Linked DNA regions of Homo sapiens: region 2 is linked to region 1. The links come from fine-mapping of genetic effects on plasma protein levels. A gene starts in region 1. The other region holds a variant in brackets. All regions are shown on one strand. Distances are between the middles of the regions.

Region 1 (8,335 bases):
CTAGCCTTTTCCAGCCTGGTGTTTCTCAATAATGAAGCCAACTCTATCAATGCTTCAAGTATCAATGTCTGGTAACTCTGTAAGGATTAGCACCCACTTAGTGGTCAGGAAAATTCATTCCAAGATGCTAAAGAGGTGCTTTGTTTTTAATATTTTTAATTTAAGATTTAGTAGATTCTATGATCACAGGGTTATGTTCCTTTCAATAGAGCTCAGTCATGAGTAAATTAAAACTGCAAATCATGGAGACAGAAATGAAAGATCCACTAAACTCTCTCAAAGCCACAAATATTCAACCTTAGTGCATTGCATTTCCTATACATCCTAAGGCTGCCAGATGGAAAAAGAATGGAGTCTGAGTCTCCCAAACTGTAGCAATTGTGAGTCATAATCATATTACTAATAATAATTCTCACATACATGGGCATTACTGAATGAGTGGCTCTGCTTACAGGAGGATGAGGCCACCCTGACCATGGAGAAGAAATGGCCTTTTAAAGTTTATGGATGTGTAAAATAAAGAGTATATGATGTTGCATCCCTGCCTAAATGTCTTCATAAAGTGCAAATTAATGCAGATCCTAACTAGGCATTTGGAACGCTAACCTAGTTTTCTGTGTTTAGCTAATAGCTAGCAATTTTGCTTACACTTTTATCCTCTCATTACATAGCAATAATGATTATTTAGTAAATACATATGAAAGGCCATGTACTCCATAGCACTCCTCCTGAGTTGGAAATCCCCCTCCTAATGCTTCCATTTGAATAATTTAGTTGCTGATACACCAAATCAAATATAGCTGTGACAGGTATCCCACTAATGCTTTTTTTGGAGGCTAAGATCAGACCCTTTCTCAGCCTGTTCCCCTCGGTGATTGCCTGGCGAAATTCAGGGTAAGGGCTGGGGACAGAGAGGATGCTGGAGGAAATCCAGAGCCTTAATCAATGTTAACCCTTTATAAATCTTAAAGGTACTCAGATGGCTTGTCTGATTTGAAAATTATTAATGACACTGGGGAGAAGTAAGGAAAGGCTATTTTATAACTAGTCAAATATTCTGGAACAAGAGAGAGAGTTTGAAATAGACATGTAGAAGAGAAAGATGTAAAATATGGCCTTGTGAGATGCCACCCACTTCATATCTGGACATATGACTGATATAAACCTTTACAAGTCACTTGAGAATTTTCACTCCTAGATGCAGAATGGAATAATAGAAGTCCCACTAGAGGAGTTGGGGTGACCCCAGGGCACATTTTCTTGTCTGCCAGGTACACAACACATCTCACTGATGTATCACAGAGACAAATTTCTTAATAGGGTAGCCAAGCCCCACACAGAATGATTTCGGATAAGAGTCCCATTCCTTCCCTATGAGGAGAAAATTGGAAGCCAGACTGGGATTTGGAACAGAGTCCAGGGTGAGGGCAGAACTAGGGTTGTTTTCTCCTATCCAGAATCAGGTCTGGCTTAAAGGGAGGGGATTGACAGGGCTGAAGGAAGAGGCAGGAAACATGTCTCTCCACCCCAGTGCTGCTTAAATGTGGCTGCTCAAAGGGGCAATATCCTGCTCTCCTCTTCTGATGACTTCATGGGAAGTTGGCCGAGTCCCCACTTCTGCAGAAGAATGCAGGCAGAAGGGAGCACTACAAATGGGCTTTTCCTTGGGTGCTTAAGTGGCAGGTGTGAAGGGAAATGGGGTGGGTGCCTTCAATGGGAGGAGCCACTGAACTGGGGAATACTGCTGGTCCAGGGGCTTTCCCCTTTCCCTCCCAGCTTCCTCCCAACCCCAATTCCCTGCATCAACAAAGACAGTGCTCAAAAACCAGAACTCGTCCTAACACACTCAGGCACAGGTGTCCACAAGCCCAACCTCTTTCACCTCAACACCCTGAAATCCCGTTTGCTCTTAAAAGCACAGACAGGCCCAAGTAGACTGAGAGGTCTGAGCCAGCACATCCTTGCTACTGGGAATTAAAAAACACCGTGATGTAAAGAAAGTGGTATTTGTGACACTGTAGTGCTTTAACAAGAAAATTGGGGGGGTAGAGGAGGGTGTGTCAGCAGGTTTCAAAGCATCACAATCAGTCCTGATGTGTTTGGGTAAGGCATGGAGGACATATCTCTGATCCCTGCTGGTACTCTCCAGTCCCGCATCCTCCCGCAGTCTCTTGAAAGTGGTTAGATACCCGGGCAGGGCCCCGCGTCCATTTTGCCAGCCAGGAACCACCGAGTCTGGGAACTTTGAAAGCCAGGGGATGGGGGTGGTTGTTGCCAAGGCTCGGATTTCGGCGCCAGAGTTCTCAGCCAGGAAAGCAGTTGAAAATCAACACCCATCTGCCTCTTCTTTCTCATCCCCCACCACTTTTTCCTTCACCCTTCTAGGACTGCACACAGATCCTAACCACCCCCCCCCGCAAAACACACACATTCACACACCCTTGGGCTGAGAAGATTTTTGATTCTGAAGGCGGCAAACCCGCAGAACTCAAAGGGTCTCGCCACCCCTCTCTCTGCCCCGCGGCTATATACAATAAAACCCCATACACCCCAGACATCACAACATAATCCAAATCAGCCAGTGACTTCGGCGCGTCCCGTACCTGATATGCAGACGATGAAATTGGCTTGAAGAAGAAAAAGCACCTCCCAGACTATTTCCATCCTCTGATTCTCATTCCAAGTGCATCACTCGACGGGAAAACGGGGGGAAGGGGGGAGCCCGACACGGCACACACACATACACACTCGCACACACTTCCGAGCGAGTGCACACTCGCACTCCCACCCGACAGCCGGCCAGGGACAGTCACCCCCAAGATCAATATCGCAGTTTGAATTGTTCCGGCAAATCTCCCCTCGGGCTCGACGGATGTGCGCCCCAGATGTGCTGACACATGTCCGATGCCTCGCTGCCTTGGAGGTCTCCCCGCTCGCGTGTCTCTTCTCTTCGCACCAGCGGCGGAAACCGCACTAGCAGCGGCGGCGGCGGCGGCGGCGGCAGCAGCCACCTGAAGCCACCAACACTGGGCTCTTCCAGCAAAAACGAGACCCCGATTCGTCTGGCGCCCCAAGAAGACATAGACGATAGCCCCCCGCCGGGCTGCGCCGTGCAATTCCGGGCTCCCGGGAGCGCGTAGCTCGCTGGCTAAGCCCAGGCAGTCCGCGGCAAGTTGCCCTCGAAGTCCGCCCCCCTCACCGGGGCATGGTCGGAGGGTGGCTGCTGCGCTCCGGGGCAGTTCTTCTCCTGCTTCCGGGGGGCGGGGAAGGAGCAGACACAGCAGACACACAGAGAAAGAGAGGCAGGGATTATTGCCCGAAACCGCCAGCCGCCGGCAGCCTCCGCCGACCCTCCCTGCTCCCCAGGTCCGCGCGCAGCCTGCAGCCTCTCAGCCGGGTTCCGGCAGTGCGTCCAGGGCGCCGAGGGGAAGGGCTGGGCCCCGGGGACTGGGGCGCGGTGGGGGCACACAGACTCTCCAGGTCGCGCGCGCCCTTCCTGCTCCTCTGCTATTTTCCTGAACTCCCCAGAACCCCCAGTTGCCTGGCTTCCATCGCCCGCAACTAGCGCCGCTGTCGAGATTTTCCGCAATACAACTGCAGGGGTCGTTATTTCCTCGCCTACGGATCCCTACGCTTCCCAACTCAGAGAGGAGGAGGACAGGTGGGGGCGGGAGGGGGAGGAGGAGAAGGAGGCTTGGCCAGGTGAGCGTCCTCGCCGCCGCCGGGCGTCCCAGCGTCAGCTCCGCAGCCCGGCACCCGGGGGCGGAGGCAGGAGGCCCGGGCGGGGAGGTGAGGCTGAGCGCGGCCATGAGGAGGAGGAGGAGGAGGCTGGGTGTCACAGCTTCAGGCCACCTTGGCCGCCGCCTCGGCCCCAGTCCCTGGCAGCCGCCTCCGCACTCCGCCCCGCCCTGGCTGCCTCTGTTACCCTCCAGGATTTTCGAGTTTCTCTTCTTAAAAAGAACTTCGTGCTGCGGGTTCGGCGCGGGAGACCCAGGCAGGACTCATCCTGGGAGTGCTGTGCTGTGCTCTCCCTCCGCTGCGAAATATTGGAGATTTTTTTGCATAATTCATTCCCTGCCCTCTCCATTTCGTCCCTCTCATGCCCCCCACCCTTTACCCCTTTCCGTGCCAGTGCCAGAACACTACTTACCCCAGAGTTCTTTTCTCTGCAGGTTCCTAGACCAGGTGCAACTCTTGCCTGCAAGTCCCTGCCTCCCTCCTCCCGAAAAGGGGGAACACCGCCTTTCCAAGTCCGGGTGCCAGCAGCGGCTGCTGCCAACTGCGCCTTCGCCCAACTCCAGGAGGATCCGGGACTATTGGAAACCCGGGCTTTAGAGGAACGGGCTTCCCTTCTTGTCTTTCTTTTATTCTGCTTTTCTTTAGGGAAGCTCTAGTGCTTTGGAGGCTTTTGCTGGGCTCCAGGATACTTTCCGCCAACGACACTCAGCAGCTTCCACTGAAGGAGATTTCCCCACCAAACCCGCGCGCGCACACACACACACACCCAGCGCGCGGCTCTCCAGGGCCCCAGGGGAAAGTAGGGGCGGCGCGAGCACCACCCACCCACCCAGGCCGAGGCCAGGGGCAGCCAGTCCGCAGAAGGTCTCGTGGGGAGGCGGGCTGTCTATAACCTAGGAAAGACTTGCACCCGGTTGCAGTGTGGATGCAGGGGAATTGAAGAAAACCCTGTGCTCAGAACTGCTTGCCTAAGAGGGCTGGGAACGAAAGGGGAAAGACAAAATCTCAACAGATTTGTCTGCTTCCATCGCTGCAGTGGTGGTTTGCGAAAGCTCAAACCTACCTCTTTGGGGTTATTGAAGAAGAGGAGGGAGCGTAGAGGGAATCCCTGGGAAGATCCAGGATTTCTCGGCGCGCTTGTCCCGATTGGGAACTGTGACGTTAGGAGATTTTGCACAAGCGCGGATGAACACACACATAACAAACACAAACACACACATACCCCGCGGGGATTTTTTATCCACTTTTAATATTTGATGTTTAGAAGCTATTTCAGTATAAACCTCGGTCTAAGAACTGCACAAAGGGTAGATAAGTGGAGATGGAGGAGGGGAAGGAAAGGGTGCCCGTTCATCCGCACAGAGTCAATCTAGTGAATCTTCCCGTGTTGATCCCAGCACCCAGGCTGTGCGACATCTGAGGGTGCGGAGTGGGAGCTAAAGGAGTTACATTACAGTGCTCCCAGGGTTCTTGAAGGGACTCCAACTGCCCAGGAGTCTGGCGGGTCTTTTTGCTGAGTGGCGGGGAGAAGAGGGAGGAAAAAGAGAGAACGCAGAGCAGATCAGCAGCTCTCTGAGCTGTCTGGGCTGGGCGGCTGCGGGAGCCAGAGCTACGTAGTCCCACCGACTCTAGGGATTCGAAAAAGGAACCGCCGACAGACCTGCCTACTCTTAAAGAAGGAGATGTGGCCGTGAGATCTGTTCTGTGAAACAAAGGCCAAGGACTCTAGGTGGTCAACACATTAAAAATCTAGGCCCAGATGAAATAAATCCAGCATTCTTATGTAGAGAGCTTCCAGGCTCAGCAGGGAAAAGCATGAAACTTCAGAACATTAAAAGAATTCCGGATAGTGAGAATTAGCCCATTTGGGAAATATATGGGGGCATTTGTCTCCGTGCCTTGAAAGTAGACTGCATGAAGAATTATTATTATTTTTTCTTTCTTTCTTTCTTTCTTTCTTTCTTTCTTTCTTTCTTTCTTTCTTTCTCTCTTTTTTCTTTTTTCTTTTTCTTTTTTTGAGGAGAGAGGGAGAAAGAAAAAAAAAAAAGCAGTCTGACAAAGATGAGCAGATTCCAGCCTGGTGAGAGTTCAGAACCGTGGACAGCGACCTACCATCCCTGCTTGGGTGGGGAGATAGGCTGGCAGAAGAGGTCTCTCCTCTGGAAGCAGAAGCATGGTGCCTGAATTTTTATGTCACTACCCACTCATTTACTAATGAATTCTGCAATTATTAAGTGTCTTATATGTGTCAAACACTGTGGCAAGATGCTTGGGCTTTGTAATTGAAAATGCATTATCCTTGCTTTCAAAAAAATCTGCAGACCATATATCCCTCTATATTCTGCTTTAAGAGCCAATGCCAGTAAAATAATACTTTATTTCCACCCTTTCAGTCTGCATACTCACCTCCAGCATTCCCAAAGAATATTTAATCTGTGATCTGCCACTAAGTGCTTTCAGTTTTTAAAAAAGGCAACTCACATGACAGTATTTGTTAGTTTAAAAAAAGTTTGAGTGTATTGATTGTTGTGTGTGAAGTATTATGTGTATTGATTGTTATGTGTGAAGACTATGTGTGAAGATTCTGAATCCCTTACATAAATTATCTCATTTAATCATCATAATGTGATGGTGAGATAAATGTCATTATCACTTCCCTTTTACTGACAATAAAACAATACCAGGGTAGTTATTTGCCCAAGGCTCCACAGCTGCAAATCAGTAGTGTAGAGACCATAGCTGGAAAGTCTAAACTCAGAAGTCATGTCACACCACTTCCTTATATGCTCTGTAAAATGAAAAATATCATCTTGGGGAGGTTATTTTGCACTTAAAGAGAACAGAAGTACACATATGACAGCTGGAAGTTAATCAAAGGTGGTATTAAAATTTAATGGTAGACAATGCAATTTAGAACCCAACTACATTAGTTGGGATAAGGAAAAGATCACTGGGAATCAGAAGTAATCAAAAGCGTTTCTAATGATAGAATTTTGGCACCTGCTAGATGTCAGTTCTGGTTCTGGCACTTGGAATACAGCAGTGAACACAATAGTCCCCAACATATTGATTCCATACTAGCAATTGCTAGAAGAAAGAGCCATACATTTTTGAGTCATTTCTAGGCTACTACATTTCTAGAGTAGGTTGCTATATGTTTTTCTGAGAAATTCACCATCTTAATACAGAAAATAACTCAGTAAAAAAAAATGCATTAAATAGAAGCCTTTAAATTTAAGTAAATTCTGCCTCTCTTTTTTGTTGTTTTTTTAGCCCAAAAAACAAACCAAATAAATGTGGGAAAAAAATTCCATGAAGCTAGAAAATATTCTTAGACGTTTTCATATTTTAATGTGCTTATATGTATATCTAAATAACTACAAAGAATCTCTCCACATCATACCCGCCTTTATCTTTTGTTCCTTTCCTACTCCTCTACATTTCTGCACTACAAATCAAGTGTAAGTATCTTACACATTTAACAGAGAGTCTTGGCCAAGCCCACCCAAGTGTGAGAGATACCAATTGTCCTATAGAAAGCAAGGAATTATATTTCCATTTTCCAAGAGAGAATAATATTAAATTCCTTTGGGTTCTTCCTGTACCTTCTCTTTCACTCAACGCCATAGAAGAAGGGATGACTCAACTGATGATAAACTTTTAAGAGTTTGACTTTCATTAGGGTGCATTTATCAGAGGCCAAGCACACTGTATTAGAAGACAAAGGAAATCTATACCTCTTCCCACTTCTCTATTTTCTTGGTAATGCTACCTTCAGGCACAGTGAGCTCACAATTTTAGTGTGTGTACCTATGCATATTTATTTTGTATGCCACTCTCAAAGAGCAGAGCTAGTAAGGTCTCTGCTTTCTTGCAGTACTTAGCTTTCTGGGGCCAGTCACAATCATGCATGTGGCTGGGAAAGCATATTTAGAGCCTTCTTTGTAGACCCAACCATCCTTATAAGTGATGTTCTAGTTTTGAATTTGGGGTGAATAATTGGAAAATGCCACTTCAAAACACATCAAGCTCTATTTAAGGACTGTCCCATTCCCATTTAGAAAATGTTTCTATTTTTAATTGCTTAGATGCCAGAGGGAAAGAAAAGTTAGTGATGAAGCTACCCCTAACTTCTACCAAAAAGATAAAATTACCCAAATAAATGGAAAGATATACCATGTTCATGAATGAGAAAGCTCAATATTGTTAAAATACCAATTTTCCCCAAACTGATCTATAGAGTCAATATAATCCTAATAAAAATCCCAGCAAATTTTTAAATAGAAATTGTCAAGCTGTTTCTAAAATCCATATAAAAATACTAGGGAACTAAAATAGCCAAAACACTTTGGAAAAAGATAAACAAAGCTGGAATATTTAAATTATGTAACTTCAAGGCTTATAAAGCTATAGTAATCAAGACAATGTAGTACAAGACAATGTAGTAGAATATAGACAAATCAATAGAACAGAGAGAGTCTAAAAATAGTCTGACATATATTGATTGAGTTGATTTTCAACAAAGGTGCACACTCATTTCCTTGGAGGAAGAATAGTCTTTTTAACAAATCGCCTTTTCAATATTTCGATGTCTATT
Region 2 (8,335 bases), 23 kb before region 1:
TAAAACTTAAAGTATAATAATAATAAAAAAAGAAATACTATTTTTATTTTTAAATTAAAAAAATTAAAACAGCTTGTCCCCAAGAGCTGTGGAAGCAATGGAGAGGCAGACTCAGAGGAAGACGCTGCAAGAGAGATGGTTTGACTGGAGAGGCACTGAGCATGACAACAACAGGATATGGTCCAGATGTGGCAGACAGTAAAGCACATGGGGGGCTAAGAAAATGGACTTTGAAAGAGGACTGCCTAAACTGGAATCCCAGTGCCACAGAGTGCTACTCATGGAACTGTTGTGAGCTATGTGAGTCAATTCTTCTAAAGTACTAAGCACAGTAAAGGAGAAAGGTGTGCTGTACCTGTTAACTGCTATATTATTCTGAATAATTAGAATGAAGACCAATATCTGACTTCTGGGTTTCTGACTTATATGTGGGGCACAGCAACAGGGAATGAAGGCACAGTGAACATGCAGAATTCAGCATCTTTCCTCAGGCTCTGGCCATCTGAGCACACTTGGTTTTAGTGAAGTTAGCTTATAGGCAGTTCTAGAAACAAATTTAGGGAGGATTTGGGGCCCTAAGCCTAGAGATTCCAAGGTCCTTGTATAGGTTAACACAATAGAAATGCATGTACCAGGTACAGAAGAGAGGGCCCTCATCAGGACTGGGGTACAAACTGGGGACTTGGTCCAGACACAGGTGACATCTCGTGGCTCAACCGAGGCACAGGACCACAGTGAGACAACAGCAAGGGTACCTTGGAGCAGAGCCTAATATATGGGGTGGAATTACAGGGCTTAAATCAGTGCTACCTCTTCTCAGGAGTAGCGCAGAGGACCATGGGCAGGCTGAGTATGCAGATAAGGATTATATGACTCCAAAGGTAAGGAAAAGCTGGGAGTTGGGCTGGACCTAATCCATGTTGCATGGAGCTGCTTCACTGCCCTGTCTGGGCCTCACCTTCTTGGTGAGCAAGCAATCTGGTACCATGCCCTTTGGTGAAATCAGGCATGGAACAGGTGACTGACCTTGGGGAACGAAAGCCAAGCTGCCATTCATCACAGCCCATGGTGCAAACCTCTAAGGTAAGCCTTGGAGCCTCCAGCGCCCCAGCGGTGGGGCATCCGTCCTCTGGGCAGGGAGCTTCAATTCACACAGCAGGAGAGCCATAACATAGCAGGAGACACACAGAAGGCCTTTAAATGTCTATTTTTTAAAGTGGTTAGCAAAGCAGGAGAGAAACTGTCAGAGATCCGCAATGCAGAGTTTAATCTGGAAAGTCAGTGAAGAGGTGGAAGGAAACAGAAAACAGGAGACTGGAAGAAGAGGCTTCAGGATTTGGGGAGAGCAAAGCAAAAAGTGTTAACAAGAAAAAAAAAACAGTTGCATATCAGAAACTGCTCAATTCTCATGTCAACATTTACAGAACACTGTTTTCCATTTTTCCGACTGCTCTATGCATTTGACAAATTTTTACTTGTTCTTAATTCTAGCTCAAAGTTCACCTCCTTTAGACAAAGCCATACCCTCTTCTGGCCTCTGTTTTAATAGATACAATGTTTGTAATAGCATATTTCAAAATATTGTGTAATGAATTGTGACTCTGGATATTATAGCCACTCATCATTTTCTTGAGGATATTTATCCTTATATCCCCAGGACTTAGTAAAGTTCCTGGCACATATTAGCTAATGGTCAATTAATGGTCACTTAATGAATAGAAGATTAATGAATGAAGAAGGAACCAAGGAGGGAAGATGCTTTATGACTGTACAGGGTGCATGCGAGGGGAGGCAGGAAGTGAGATCTATAAAGGTGTCTTAGCATATCATGCTGGTGATGTGAGCCAAGCTAAGCATTGCAGCTTTCATCCACTGGCAAGGTAGCATAATAAAAGGCTGTAAAGCAGAATGTTTCAAAGAGCTGTTCCCCCAGTGCCATCTTCACTCTATACGTTATTAATCTCATTTCTTCCCTACTTCGAACTAATGTGCTCACATTCAAAGATTTGGCATATATAGACCCATTCAAAACAAAATGTTTCAAGTTCTCCAGAAAATAATCCTAAACCTCAACTTCTTCAAGAAATAATCCTAAAATAACCTCCCATCAGCTTCTTTGTTACTCAGTATTTTATTCTTAACTTATTGTAACCTTGTACCTATTTATTTGTCCCTTGGGAGATGATGGTTTTCTTTAAGAGTTATGAGTGTACTTTCTAGTGCCAAACTTGGGTTCAAAGCCTAGCTCATCCACCCACAAGCTTTCTGTCTTTAACTAAATTATTTAATATCACTGAGTCTCAGTCTGTTCACCTCTATAGGCATGATAAATAATGCCTACCCACATGATTTCGGTAAGAATTGAAGGCTATTGTAAAGTTTAAACATGAACTAAACAATCAATACCAGCAGCTAGTAATAGTGGTTCTGCCAATATTAGTTAAAAATAATAATAATAGTAAGTTTGTTCTTATGCCCTGGCATACTCTCTGGGAGAAAGAATCATCTTCTCTTTCTTAGGTTATTATTTCTTTTTCTCTCCCCTCCTACAACTGCACATCTGCCTCTTCCCTTCACAGTATTTTGCAATTCTCTGTGTGACTCAAAGCAGAGCTCAGGTTATGCATGACAGCTGCCTCTTCCACTGTGCCCTGGCACCATGGATGTCACTGCCATCCTCCACCCCATGCATGAGCCAGAACCCTGGGCTCCTTCTGACTCACCATTCTCCCTCACCCCCACCATACACAGTTCATCAGGCTCTGTGAATCCACATCCTGAACGGCTCCTGATGCTGGCCATTGCTCTCCATGTGTGCCATCACCTTCAACAGGTTACCTGCATCTCCAACCCAGACTGCCACCAGAGCCTCCTGACTGCCCTCCTGAGGTCGCCTGTGAGAAATAAAAATGGAATCCTAAGCCCCCCAACTGAATGGACCCTCTATTGGCCAAGGGGACCCCAGATTAACCTTAAAAATTGAGTTCTCAGCCATGACAGGATGAGAGGTCAGACATGCCTCAGTATATCCCTCCCTCGCTAACCATGTTAGGCTTTCCTCCCTAAGGGATAAACAGAAACTAGCTCTTTGGAAAGACTCCACTTTTGATACCAACAAACCACCTGATGCTGCCCCTCCTTTTTTTGCCTGAGAAAAGACCACTGACCATGCAGTGGTTCTGGCCAGTCTATGGAGAATGTGCAGTAAAGGCTTTTGTGTCCTCTGCTTCACCTTTTGACATCAGAGAGCTCAAAACTCCACCCTTGGATCATGCTAATGCTACCATTTTTTTTGTACATGGGACCCACAAATGGGCATGAAGTTCAATTGCACAGGACCACGTTTCTCCTTTCATGAATATTCATGACTCCTCCTATAGCTTATTAAATATGTATATTTGGCCACCTTGCTCAGCGCACGTTCCTATTCCCTTTACCTCTCCCTTGAAGTGTCTGTTTCTAGCTTCTGGCAAGAGGCTATGCTTCCTAGCCTGTGGGAATGGGCACCCTGCAGGCTGCAACACTTTATGAGAAATAAAGCTGTTTTCCCAAATTTATGAATCTTGTCATTCTTCAGTTGATACTTGTCTCCCTCTCTGCTTCTCATTACTGCTCAATTCTCCACTCTGTAGCTGGAGGGGTCTTCTTAAAGCATAACTACGATCATGTGAAACCCCCACCCTAAGGCCCTCTCCTGGCTTCCCCATTGCTCTTAGCATACACATCCAAGTTGTTAAACATGGCTGTTTAATAATCATGCTTATTATCTGTGCTGGAGCCACACTGACTTTATATCAGGTCCCCTCTTTGCATAGGCTGCTATTGTTTCCTCCAATAAGCTCTCCAAATAAATAAGCCTTGCATAATACTGCTTAAAACCAAAGTTAAGTCCTGAACTCTGAACTAGGAAGGTCTCTTTTTAGTTCAGGATACTGTATGTCACTGATATAAAGCACTGTGTGGAGACAAGTCTCAGAGAAAAAGACGAGGCTGGCAGAATATAAGAGAAAGTGACGGATGGAGGAACTGGATGCCTAAAAGCACTTCATTTCACTTTTCTAAATGTGCCCTGTCAAAATGAAGGGAGCAGACCCAGTAAGGCTGAAGTTAGTGGTTGCACAATAAAGTAGAATATTTATCTTCGCTCTGGAGCTGCAGACCATTAGCATTAGAAAACACCACCAAGTCTGTCTCCTAACATGCCTGGGGCCCTCG[G/A]AATGGGGAGGATCCTGATTTAATGAGCAAGTTACACCATCTGTCAACAGGACGGCTGAGAGGTAATTCAGCCAACAGCAGCTCCCAGAATTTAAGGAGCAAAACACTTGTGTGCTATTTGTGTAAGACATGGCCCCTAGCTTCACGGTCAAGGAATCCTACGCACCCTAACTACTCAAGCTGGGAGTGAGGGGTGGTATCTGTGTGTCTTGCTCACAGTCCAGCCAGCTTCAGCTTTTTTGTGTGGGTGCTTGATGAGCTTTGCAGAAGGGAGACATCCAGCTAGAAATAGGGTCCTGGAGAGTTCCCTCTGCCCCCCTTTCTGAGCCTAATAATTTCTGGCAAGAGGCTACAACACGTATTAACATAAACAATATCACTGGCCAAAGTATTCACACTGTTATGGATGGAAGGAAGGAGGTGACAGAAGAGAGTATATTTCATGTATATTCCTTGTGAGACACGATTTTGAAATGGAAATAATCTAAGAGAATAAATTTTGCACCTAGATTAGTGAAAGCAACATGGAGTTGCTTTGGAAAATACCTCAGTTGTAAAATAATGTGATCTTTTACTAAATGAACTGGTAATTAATATCAAAATGAGGAATTTTTTCCCTGTAAAAATTAGTCAACTTGGAAATCTATATAAATTCTTCTTCTGTATTTCTATAGCTCATTTTATAATACTTATTAAATTTTGAAGTTTACGGATGTGGGGATTTTTTTTTTTTCACACACACTTGTGAGTCCCTAGGCCAGAGCTTGGCACACAGGGAGGTAGGGTGGCAAAAGTGTATGGACCCAAAAGTCAAATAACAGGAAATTCAAATCCCAGCTCTCTTACCTAGCAGTATGAATTTGGTCATATTTCCTAAGCCTCAGCTTCCTCATCTGCAGAATGGGGAGAACAACTATCCATTTCTCCAGGGTTGATGTGACAATTAAATGAAATAAATAATATAAAATATTACTATTATCTGTAACACACAGGAATCACTCAATAAATATTGACTACTGTTAGATATTCAAGTGAAAATATTCATTTCAGCATAATGCTTTTATGCATAAATTGTTGTGAAATCATCTTGACATCCTAACTCCCATTGTTCAAAACAAACAATATAAATTTGGGTAGGATTTGATATGAAGAGACAACTGAAAATCAGTTAAATATAAGCCTGGTATCTATGAACTTCTTGACTGTCAGCTTTGAGTCTTACTCTCTTATTCTCCTTTGAAGCTATAATATCTTTCACAGTGCTTGGCACTCAGCTCCAGAAGCTATAATATCTTTCACAGTGCTTGGCACTCAGCTCCAGTAAATATTTATTTAATAAATGGAACATTTGTTGAATAAATCACGGGGTGAATAAAGTGGGTGAACAATCTGAACAATCACAAGCAATTTTACTTAGCTTGTTTACCCAACCTAGCTTTAGGAATCTATTAGAATGCTATCAAAAAGTAGAGAGCACTGGATGCGGGAAATATTAATAATTTTTCTAGCTTTCCTTCACCACAGCTGTGGTGGACATTTGTCATGCTCCCTGGACTGTCATCACATTCTGAATACCTATCCTATGTGCATCAGTTTCCCATTGCTGCTGTAACAAATTACTACACATTTAGTAGCTTAAAACAACACAAATGTATTATCTTACAGTTCTGGAGCTCAGAAATCTGAAATGAATCTTAAGGGGCTAAAATCAAGGTGTCAGCAGGCATGTGTTCTTTCTTGAGGCTCCAGGGAAGAATTAATTTCCTTGTCTTTTCCAGCTACTGGGGATCTTTTGCATTTCTGGTAACTCCCTTCCTTCCTCTTCAAAGCACATCAATCCAACCTCAGCTTCTGTTCTCACATCTTCTTTTTCTGACTCTGATCATTCTGCCCCTCTTTTATAATGACTTTTGTGATTACATTTGGCCCACCCAGATAATCTAGGATAATCTCCCAATCTCAAGATCTTTAATCATGAATGCTAAATCCCTTTTACCATGTAAAATAAACATATTCATAGGTTCCTGGCATTAGAATTAGGACACAAACATCTTTGGGAGGCTATTCTTCAGCCAACTCACTATATTTGGAGTATTTCCTGCCTTTTGTATCCAGTCCCACCCAGGTAGAAACCTGTACTTTACTTTGGACAGGATGCAGGCATGTGACTGAACTTAGTCATTCAGATGCCTGAGATTATGGTTCTAAAGTGAACAGCATGAGCAAGCAGGTTTGATATCAAATCCATCTTCTGGTGAGGTTGGTAGCAGCAGTGTCCAGCTTTCTGGATACCAATGGTGTATAGAGCTCAGTCCACACCAGTGATGAGATCTGGCTGTTTCTACACAGCAGTGGCAGGAGTCTTTTTTTAGAGCAATGCCATAATATACCCTTGTAAGTACAATTTCCAATTACTATTTTTTGGCCTACCCTCAGACTCTGTGAGCACCTCAAGTGCTTTAATAAAAAATTTTTTCTGCTTATAGTAGTCCTGAAGGTTTCATTATTTATAACTAAGGAACCCAGTGGACACAGCCTCCTGTGCTAGGTTGTAAGAAGCGCTTGCAGGGAGGCTGACGGAGTGCTCCTAGAAAATTGGAACAGCAGACAATCATTTGGGGCACCATTTAGGTGCCAAGTACTTAGTAAAAAAGGCCCTGAAGAAATGGAATGCAATCATTCAAACTAGGAGTTGGTAAATTGCGCTGTTCTTTATAATACCCGGTGTAGGGGGAGGAGAGAAAGAGAATATCCTATGGAGGTCTGTTCTGAGACTTTGATCTTCATCTCTTCTCAATATGACAGACCAATTCAGATAGAATTCTGTTTGTGAAGGAACAGCAAGAGAGATTTTGATTACTGATTCTGGTCAGCATGGATGCACCCCTCAGTGATTTTCAAAGCACTTTATGGCCTTTAGTTGTTTACATTAAATTAAATAGTCTTGGATATCCATTAGTTTAGAAAGCAAAATTATATCTGGCTTAAAACTGCTTTTTGCCTACTGCCTCATTCGCCTCTGCATTATCTAGAACTTGCTCACATATGGCTCTTACTTTATCCATCTGTAAGACAAGGTGATTTTTTTTTTTTTTTCGAAATAATGCATTTCCATCCCTCTCTGTTCGGTGTCTTTTGCTTGCAGTTTGGAGAGCTTGGTTCAAATCCTAACTCTAGCAGTTAGTAGCTGGGTGACTTGAACTAGTTACTTAACCTCTCTGAGCTTCCTTTTTCTACAAAATGTTGATAATATACTCCCAAACAGACTTGTAGTGAAGATTGAATAAGTATGTGATATGGTGGCTGAGCTCAGACTCTGGATTCAGACAGGTCCACATTCAAATCTTAGCTTACATCTTAACAGCTGTGTGCTCCTCAGTGTTACCTGGGTGCCTGTCTCCTCTCAATAGAATCAGAGATGGATAAGAAGTCCCTCATAGGGTTAGAGATAAAATGAGATAATAAATGGACAGCACTTTGCACAGTGCCTGTTAGGTTCTAATATTATGAACAGTTAAGTGGCTGTTTGGAGTGGGTGTTTGGAGTGAATTAAGGAATTATCAAACGAAAGAATAAAATCAACTTCATGTTTTCAAACACCCCCACCACCACCTTCTCTCAACACGGTCTCTAGTGATCTGAAATCCTTTCTAAATAATTGTTTAAAAGTTGTTACCACTAACAGAGATCAGATCTGTGGTTGCCTGCACAAGGATTGGAGAGGGACTGACTACAAAGAAACATACAGAAATTTGGGGAGTGATAAAAATGTTCCACATCTTAGTTGCGGTGGTGGTTATAGGACTGTCTTTTTTACCCCAAACTCATCAAACCATATAATTAAAATGAGTGCATTTTATGTTTAATGTACTTCAATAAAAGTTTATATTAATTAATGTATTATGCTTCTAGAGCAAGGGTTAGCAAACATTTTTCTGGGAAGGGACAGATAGAAAGTAATTTGAGCTTTGCCGGCCTTAGGCTCTGTTGCAGCTACTCAACTTTGCCCCTACGGTGTAAATGTAGCCATCGAAAATAGATACTAGACAGTACATAAATGAATGAGTGTGGTTGTTTTCAATCAAACACAATTCATGAACCAAAATTTGTTTTCATATAA

Evidence for each region. PIP is the chance, under the fine-mapping model, that this variant and not a neighbour inherited with it causes the effect. Sun 2018 read protein levels with aptamers (SomaScan).
Region 2: its variant is fine-mapped to the plasma level of the CA10 protein (Sun 2018, PIP 0.95).

What each region holds. Positions count from the first base shown.
Region 1 is chr17:52,155,123-52,163,457 of GRCh38, forward strand. It overlaps CA10 (carbonic anhydrase 10), which reads right to left and starts at 3,592. Exons shown (of 9, transcript NM_020178.5): 1 at 2,604-3,592. The coding sequence starts at 2,664. RefSeq lists a silencer at 4,147-4,441.
Region 2 is chr17:52,132,156-52,140,490 of GRCh38, forward strand. All of the region lies in intron 1 of CA10 (carbonic anhydrase 10), which reads right to left. Among named protein-coding and RNA genes, the nearest start is that of CA10, 22 kb to the right of the region's middle. The variant G/A (reference allele first, on the strand shown) is at 4,216.